Regions from separate parts of the Homo sapiens genome. Here region 2 is linked to region 1. The links come from fine-mapping of genetic effects on gene expression. A gene starts in region 1. The other region holds a variant in brackets. All regions are shown on one strand. Distances are between the middles of the regions. Region 1 holds the start of BPIFC (BPI fold containing family C). Region 2 overlaps BPIFC (BPI fold containing family C).

The links. PIP is the estimated chance that this variant, and not a neighbour inherited with it, causes the effect. A credible set is the group of variants that fine-mapping cannot tell apart.
Region 2: its variant is the best candidate, but not a certain one, in a credible set for the expression of BPIFC in unexposed skin (GTEx, PIP 0.57).

What each region holds. Positions count from the first base shown.
Region 1 is chr22:32,462,331-32,466,726 of GRCh38, reverse strand. BPIFC (BPI fold containing family C) reads left to right here and starts at 2,281. Exons shown (of 17, transcript NM_174932.3): 1 at 2,281-2,353.
Region 2 is chr22:32,440,277-32,444,672 of GRCh38, reverse strand. BPIFC (BPI fold containing family C) reads left to right here. Exons shown (of 17, transcript NM_174932.3): 8 at 1,942-2,002. Among named protein-coding and RNA genes, the nearest start is that of BPIFC, 22 kb to the left of the region's middle. The variant T/C (reference allele first, on the strand shown) is at 2,405.

The DNA.
Region 1 (4,396 bases):
TCCACCTTTCGGATGATGACTTAGACATTCATATTTCCAGTTGACCTCTTCCCTGAACTCTACCCACCTGACATCACCATTTACATCTCGAATACCATAACTTCTGCCCCAACTCCATTTCAGACAAACTGGCTCACCTTTGCAGTTCCCTCCACCTTTTCCTTTCAGCACTTTGCCTGCCTGGCTTCCAACGGTCACATCTCAGCGCAAATAATCACCTCCTCAGAGACGCCCACGTGGGTATCCTGATAAAATAAGCCCACCTCCCCCAGTTGCATTGCTCTACCTATTACAAGACCACCTTACCAACAACATTCCCTTAGTTCCGTCACAGTACATGTCACAATTTATACATTTTTGTTTATTTTATTGTTTGCTTATTTATTTTGTCTCCATCGACTAGAACATAAACTCCTCGTGGACAAAAATTTCATCTTTTTTGCTGAAGAGGACTTTGCACATTGTAGGTGCTCAGTAAATCTGTTGATTGAATGAATGAATTCATCTATGATGACCGACAATAAATGATCCCATGAAGAGCGTCTCTGCACCGTATCATTATTGATACGGCCACGTGCTAATGAGTAGAATTTCACAGCAGTTTACAGTTTTAATAGCGCATTCTCATGTGTTATTATGTTTTTCTTCACCAGAACCAATCAAGGAAGTTACTATTTCTATCCCCACTTTACCTTAAGGAAACTCAGTTCAAATCAGTAAGTATAACCCAAGGTATAACTCCCCTGAGAAGCTGTGAGAAGTATGGACAATGCCAAGTGAAAGCGTCTGTGGTTCCTTTCAGACTGACTTATCATCCTGATTTTCCCAGGACTGTTCTGGTTTTAGTACTGAAAATCCTGCATTCTTGGGAAACCAGGACAGTTGGTCACCGGGTCTTACCCAGAAAAGTGTAGATAAGCCATAAGAACTTCATGCAATCAGGCTGGGTGCGGTGGATCATGCCTGTAATCCCAGGACTTTGGGAGGCCAAGGCAGGTGGATCACTTGAGGTCAAGAGTTCAAGACCAGCCTGGCCAACATGGTGAAACCCCATCACTACTAAAAATACAAAAATTAGCCAAGTTTGGTGGTGCACACCTGTAATTCCAGCTACTCAGAGGGCTAAGGCACAAGAATCGCTTAAACCCTGGAGGCAGAGGTTGTAGTGAGCCAAGATCATGCCACTGCACTCCAGCCTGGGTGACAGTGAGACTGTCTCAAAAAAAAAAAAACCAAAAAACAAAAAAAAAAACTTCATACAATCAAATCCCTGGCCATCTAAAATACATTAATGGCCGGGTATGATGGCTCACATCTGTAATCCCAGCACTTATGAAGCCAACACGGGTGGATCAATCACATGAGGTCAGGAGTTCGAGACCAGCCTGGCCAATGCAGCGAAACCCTGTCTGTACTAAAAATACAAAAAATTAGCTGGGCGTGGTAGCGCACTCCTGTAATCCCAGCTACTAGGGAGGCTGAGGCAGGAGAATTGTTTGAACCCAGGGGGCGGAGGTTGCAGTGAGCCAAGATCGCTCCACTGCACTCCAGCCTGGGTGACAGAGTGAGACTCCATCTCAAAAAATAAATAAATAAAAATAAAAATAGATAAAACACATTAACTAAAATGAATTTATTGGAGATGAGAGTAGGGCTGGAGTTTGGAATCTGAAAATGTTAAGTTGCATAATAGTTGATGAACCCACCCACCCAACTTAGGTTTAAGGAATGCTGGAACAGTAAGTCATTAATAACATTCTGAAAAGGAGCGGACGGACACTGAGAGATGCCAACTGAGGTCCTACCCTGAGTGATAAGGTAACTAGGTCAGCCCGATTGTCAAGCCTCATGCTTTCAGACTGAATCTGATGATCCACCACAAGTCCCAAAGGTATTCTGGGCAGTAGTAGAGCCATCCACCGCAGGCACCCTGACCAGAAGGAACCAGCTTATGATTCCAGACAGGAAAATTCTTCCTCTTCCAATGCAGTTTAACACCGTTTTCAATCATTTTGGTAAAGTAGCCATCACAATTTCACAAGTGGTGTGTGTGTGTGTGTGTGTGTGTGTGTGTGTGTGTTTTGCAGGAAGATAATTATTGCATAGGTGGCACTGTCTGTTTATCTAGGTAGATACTGTAGTGCTCATTCATGCCATTGGGTAATTGTAGTGAAGCAATTATGTATCACATTTTGAAAGAGGCATTAAAAAAATTCACCACTGAGATGAGTCAGACTTAATTATCTTGGCTTTTTAGCAGCTGAGTTTAAGGCGCAAGGTGGAGAACACATCAGCTTCAAAGGCAGAGAGAATCGAAGGTGCTCTCCAGCTTTGGACACTTCCTCTGCTTGAGGTAAGACTCATGAACAAACTTCAGGTCTCTGCCAGCCATGATCTCCAAACTGGAGATGTCCCAGATTTGGTAGGACACTTTGAACAGGCAGCTGTCATATATCCTGGGTTATTATTATTGTCTGCCTAGATTTTTCTGTATCTTTGTTTGTTTGTTTGTGTGATGTCACATATGCGCACCTGGAGGCTTCTTAGGCAAAAGCTTTAGTGACAGCTAAACAGCCATAAGAGAGAAAAGAGTTGGTTTAAACCACCTACTTAGTTTTGCATCATGGAACAATGTTAAGAGGGTTGCTCAGTGATCTGGACTTATTTTTGCCTCCATTTCAGAGGGGAACCCAGCACAGTGGCAGAAAATTCTATCTTGTCTCTCAAAATCAGCATGGTTAGGACTAAGGAGTTGTTATAATCTCTGTGCTTTCAAGGCAGGTCTTAAAGCACATCAGTGACCTAGATCCTGCCAGAGCAAAACTAGCCACCCACTTGCCTGGACTGTTGAACTTGTTGGTGTTAGGCATAGAGTTTTGGGGAAAAGACATGCTATGAATTCTCAAGGTCCTTGTCATTAGAGATGTTGCTATAAAACTAGATGTGAGGAGTGGATCCCTTGAAATATTCTGCCCACGTTCCATACCTGTCGATTTAGACTTCTTATGTACGGTCATTTTGTCTTAACCAATATGTCGGAATACCCTTCTAGTTTAGACTTCTTTAAACCTGTTGAACTTAATTTTTCAACCTGCGCCTCTGTTTTGAAGGCTACATTTTACTCATTCATTACTCCCTTAATCGGTTTTTCCAGAGTCAGTCAAAGCTCTTGCCAAGCAGCAGTAGTAGTAGGACCATCTGTGAGTTTCAGGTGTTTTCTAAATTGGACTGGCATTTTCTTAGCTGTCAGGATGACTCACACAAGGACCATTTAATTTAGGAGTATTATTCTGTCTGTGTATTTGTATGGAAAAATAATGACTACTGAGATTTTGAATCTTGGAAAGAAGCAATTCCCCAGAAGCAACAAAATAGATAACTTGCTGGTGGGGTTTTTAAGTGATCTTGGATCCTTTTAACAGGCAACTAGCCCTGCCTGCACTTGTCAGCCAAATTACTTAACCTTTTAGTAGTCATCACCTTGCTTGACAAGGTTCCTTTCCTCCCCTGCCCATAAGTTATCATCGTAACTGAACAATTCAATGAAAAGTTATGTACAATTCACCCCTTCATACCCCAGTAATTTCTTTCACTCATAAAATTTCTAGAGGAAAAATATGTTTTCCTGCCTGTAATTTTGGATTCCTGGATCTCCATCAAAGTGTACCACTTCAGAAACTTTTTTTAACCAAGAAGGGAAAACAGGTTTTACTGCTGGCAGGGAATTTAAAACTCCAGTTGTGTCCAAGAAAATAAGAAGGGATTTGCACTGTGATGCTTGAACGTTTCTAGATGCTTATTGAATTTTTCCACCTTGAAAATGGTGTTTGGTTTTCTGTGCACATGTACCCTAGAACTTAAAGTGTAATAAAAAAAATTGAGTAACTTTTAAACAACAACAACAAAAAGGAAAATGGTGTCAAGCAACTCCTATTTAAAATTCCCAGATGAAAATGAAAACCCTAGCATGTATCGAGTCATTCAATAAAAATAAATTCATCAACACTAGAATTAGGAACCAGAAGAACAAGGTTGGGTTCCCAGGTGCCTTACTTACTGTGGGATCTTGGACGAGTCATCAGATTCTCTAAGCCTCCATGTCCACGTGTCTAAAATGGGAGTAAGATAATAAGAACATCCACTTCAAAGAACTGTGAGTTTTGTAAAGGGTAAAGAAATAAAAATTTATTATTTTAGTTGTTATTCCATTCACAAGTAATATTTCTTCTCTGGTTTATTATGTTTTTTTCACTATAGAAATGGAGAGCTCTATATTATATATGATAGTTTGGTTTTTCCTTTTTTTCTAACCATTTGTAGAACCTTTCTTAGTTGACTGGAATCTTTTAAGTCAGTCAGTTGATCAGTTAGCACATATTAATTTGGGTCTTACCAT
Region 2 (4,396 bases), 22 kb after region 1:
ATAGAATATATTAAGATCCTTTCCAAAGCTATAAGGCTTCTAGTCTCAGAAGTCAGTGTCTGAAGAAGGGAAAGATGGAATTGTCTATGCACTCTCTTTCCAATAATGACCACACCTTCCCTGAACCGTTTACCTGTATTTTGGGGGAGATAAGGACAGGGATGAGGAGGAATAGAAAAGAAGGAAGACTCTTCTGGAAAAGAAGGGACAAAGACAGGGTCTGGTCACGTCCATCTCTCTAGTGCTCAGCTCGGTGCTTGACAGACATTATAGGTGCTTAATGAAAGTCGTAAGGAAATCAACACTCAGAAGCATCAAGCAGCTCATCCCAGGAGGTGGCGCAGCTGTCCAGGACTCAGAAGCCTTATAGTCCTTCTCCATCCTTACCTGACAGATGCTGAGTGCCAATGAGTGTGCATATTAGAGTCCCTGGCAAAGTGCACTGTCATCCTCAAGGACCCCAAACTTGATCATTCCCCTGTTTGAAACGAGGCACGGTCCTTTTGCCTCTGACAGGAGGCCAGTGAAGAATGAGTTATGTCACAGAAGCCAATAATTAAGTTTGCCTGAAATTGATTTATGGCTTAAAGATAATAGATGTTTCTGTGATTCTCTCTGTGCCACTGGAAGATAGAAAAGAATGCTGAGACCACAGCTGTCTAGCTGTGTAAACTGAGTTCAAATCCCGGCTATGCAACACCTGGCAACTCACTTAACCTCTCTAAGCTTTGGTTTTCCCATCTGTAATTAGGGGACCGTCATGCCTCCCTCTCAAGGCTGTAGTGAAGGTGAAATGGAGTTAAACTAACAACGGCTAACACTTACTCAATGCTTACTATAAGCTGGGCAAGTTTACATGGATTACTTCCATTTCTACTCACAATGTGATGAGGTGGACACAATTATCATCCCCATGCAAATGTTGCAGATGTGGAAACTGAGATCAAAGAATACAAGTAACTTGCCAAGGGATTCAACCCTCGGCCCCAGGCAGCCAAGCCTGTGCTGTACCCACTATGCCAAGCACATCAATGAGCACACAAGAGGCACATCAGTGCTGATACCTCTGCCCCTTCCTAAAAATATTAATGTGACTCAAGACTAATTTTCAAATTCCAAAAAGGTGGCAACAAAATAGATCTCTAAGTAGATCTCTGATATAATGTGCTCTCCAACTAGCCCAGGGGGAAAGTAAAAGCTCTAGCTCTGGGGCCGGGCGCGGTGGCTCACGCCTGTAATCCCAGCACTTTGGGAGGCCGAGGCGGGTGAATCACGAGGTCAGGAGATCGAGACCATCCTGGCTAACACGGTGAAACCCCGTCTCTACTAAAAATACAAAAAATTAGCCGGGCATAGTGGCGAGCGCCTGTAGTCCCAGCTACGCAGGAGGCTGAGGCAGGAGAATGGCATGAACCAGGGAGGCGGAGCTTGCAGTGAGCCGAGATCGCGCCACTGCACTCCAGCCTGGGTGACAGAGCGAGACTTCGTCTCAAAAAAAAAAAAAAAAAAAGCTCCAGCTCTAACCATTCCAGGTAGGGCATGCAACCGCTCCTAGAGGAGATGGCAAGCTGGCGGCACCCCCAGCAGTCAGGAAAGATACAGCAGCTCCAGCAGCAGGTTCCTCGGGTATAACAGCATGGACTGGGACGCATGCCCTATCATGTCACAGAAAGAAACGACAAGGGCTCACTCACTCTTTACAGGGCTGATTGGATGTAGTGCTAGTTGCTACAAAGTTCAGCTGGCATTCAGTGACATACCACCCGTATCTACGTAAAGCGAGGCCCATAGACATCAACAAATTTAAGAGAATGTCTCGATGACCAAAGGGATAATGACTGCTAACCAGAAGGCCTTTGTTTGCAGGGTCTAGGCCCATCAATAAGGCTTTCCAGTACAACATGGTAACTTGCTTTTTTCTTTTTATTCCTTTGTGGCCAGCTCTGTCCCATTATTGCAAGTGAAGTCAAAGCGCTAAATGCCAACCTCAGCACACTGGAGGGTGAGTCTTAGAACTGTCTTTTCCAGATGGTTGTCTTCCTACCTTCAAAAGCTGGTACTGCCTGGGTTTGCTTTTCAAGGCGGTATAGCTTGAGCTATCCATCCTGCTTCATATTCTGCAAATTAGAGCCCCGGGAAGGTGCTTGGGAGGATGTGCCTTGTGCTTAGGGCATATGTACTCTTTGGCTAATAACTAACTTCACTGCCACAAGAGGGGTGGCTCCAGGGGGATGAGATGTAGGTTCAGGAACTAAACCCTCACGAGCACGAACCCAAGCAGTGACATTACATCCCTTCTCTTCAGAGGGATTAACACTGATCTTGACCAGGTTATTCTGGGGTTCTCAGCCTGCAGTGGCTGCCCTGAGCATCAAGTCCTCGCACCTTAGCATGGACTACAAGA[T/C]TCACCACACCCCATCTCCTACTTACCTCTCTCTGCTTCATCTTTCTCTTTACCTTTCTCTGCCCCAGCAATCAAACTGTTTCCACTGCCCTCCTCACCCCTTGCCTTTGCTTTTGCTGTTTTCTCTGCCTGGAAGAGCTTCCTCTCTCCTCCATCCTTTCATTCCTTTAACCCAGGAGTCCCCAGTCCCTGGGCCACAGACAGGTTAGAAACTGGACTGCACAGCCGGAGGTGAACAGTGGGCAGGCGACTGAGCATTACTGCCTGAGCTCTGCCTCCTGTCAGATCAGTGGCAGCATTAGATTCTCATAGGAGTGCGAACCCTATTGTGAACCGTGCATGCGAGGGATCTAGGTTGCATGTGCCTTATGGGAATCTAATGCCTGATGATCTGAGGTGAAACAGTTTCATCCCGAAACCATCCCCCCCAACCCCAGGCCATGGAAAAATCATCTTCCATTAAACTGGTCCCTGGTGCTAAAAAGGTTGAGGACCGCTGCTTTAACAGATACATATTGAGTGCCCATTTCTAAACCTGCAGAGTTTAGCCAGCACTGTGCTAAACCCTGGAGGATTTAATCCTTTCCGTTCTCTATCTCTCTTTATATGTTGTGTTCCCTCCTCTTTATATTTAAGACCCAGCTCAGACATAGCCTCTTCCAGGAAACCTTACCTGACAGCCCCCACTCCGTAAAGTTATGCCTCCTCTGTGCTCACATGACACTTTGGACATCTCTCTCTCACTTTGCACTCCATCCATTCATTCACCAATGGCGCGCTGAGCACCTGAAATAGCCTGAGCACTGTTCTTGGTGCTGGGGATGCAGCAGTATTCCCAGGCAACAGACATACCTGCCGTCATGGGAGTAGTGGGAGGAGACAGACAGCAAGCAAGATAAACAAGTAAAATCTAAGTTATGGCAGTGATAAGTGGTAAGAAGAAAAATAAAGCAGTGGAGGAGGTGGAGAGGAATTTCCATTCTAGATAGAGTGACCAGGAAAGCCACCACTGAGCAGGTGGCATTACTAGAAAAACCCAAAGGGAGTAGAAAGTGAGCTGCTGCTCAATCTAGATGAAGATTCCAGATCGAGGAAACTGCAGGCACAAAAACCCTGAGGCTGAATATCTCAAGTGTGCTGGGGAGGCTGTGAGAAGGACACACTAGGAGCAGGGGGTTGGGGGAGAGCAGGCAATGAGGCCAGAGATGGGGAAGAGGGGATGGTTTGATCTTCAGGGATGTGTAGGGACTGCAAAGTCCACCTCTTAATCTAAGATGGGATGCCTTTGAAGAGTAAGGCCGGCATGACTTAACTTACAGTTTAAGGAGATCGGTCTGGCTTCTGTGCTAAAAAAAATAGACAGGAAGGAAGGGGGTCAAGGGCAAAAGCAAAGAGACTACTTAAGAGATGAGTGCAGTGACCCATACAATTAATGATGGTGGCCGGCCTAGGGTGGGGTGATGAAGATGGTAAGGCATGTTGGGATTCTGGATGTACCTTGAAGGTCAAGACAGTGGTTTTTGTGCAACAGATCAAATGTAGGTCAGGAGAAGAGTGAAGGGTGACTTTGGTGGGTAAAACCCTAAGCAATTGGAAAATTGGAAGAAGGGATTTAGCATTTATTGAGATGGGAAAGAACCTAAGAACAAGTTTGTAGCAGGATCATCAGGAGCCCAGTTTAGATCAGCCTTTGCTGTGTTGTATTATAATTTCCTGTTGATATATCTGTCTACTCCCCAAGACTATGAGTTCCTTGGGTGCAGGAACTTTGACTCACCGCTGTGCCCCCAGCGTCAGGCACAGCACCTAGCCCATTAGATTAAGAAATATCAGGCGCAGTGGCTCACTCCTGTAATCCTAGCACTTTGGGAGGCCAAGGTGGGAGGATTGCTTGAGGTCAGGAGTTCAAGACCTGCCTAGGCAACATAGTGAGACCTTGTTTCTATATAAAAAAAATTTTTTTTTAATTAGCCAGGCATGGTGGCGTGCGCC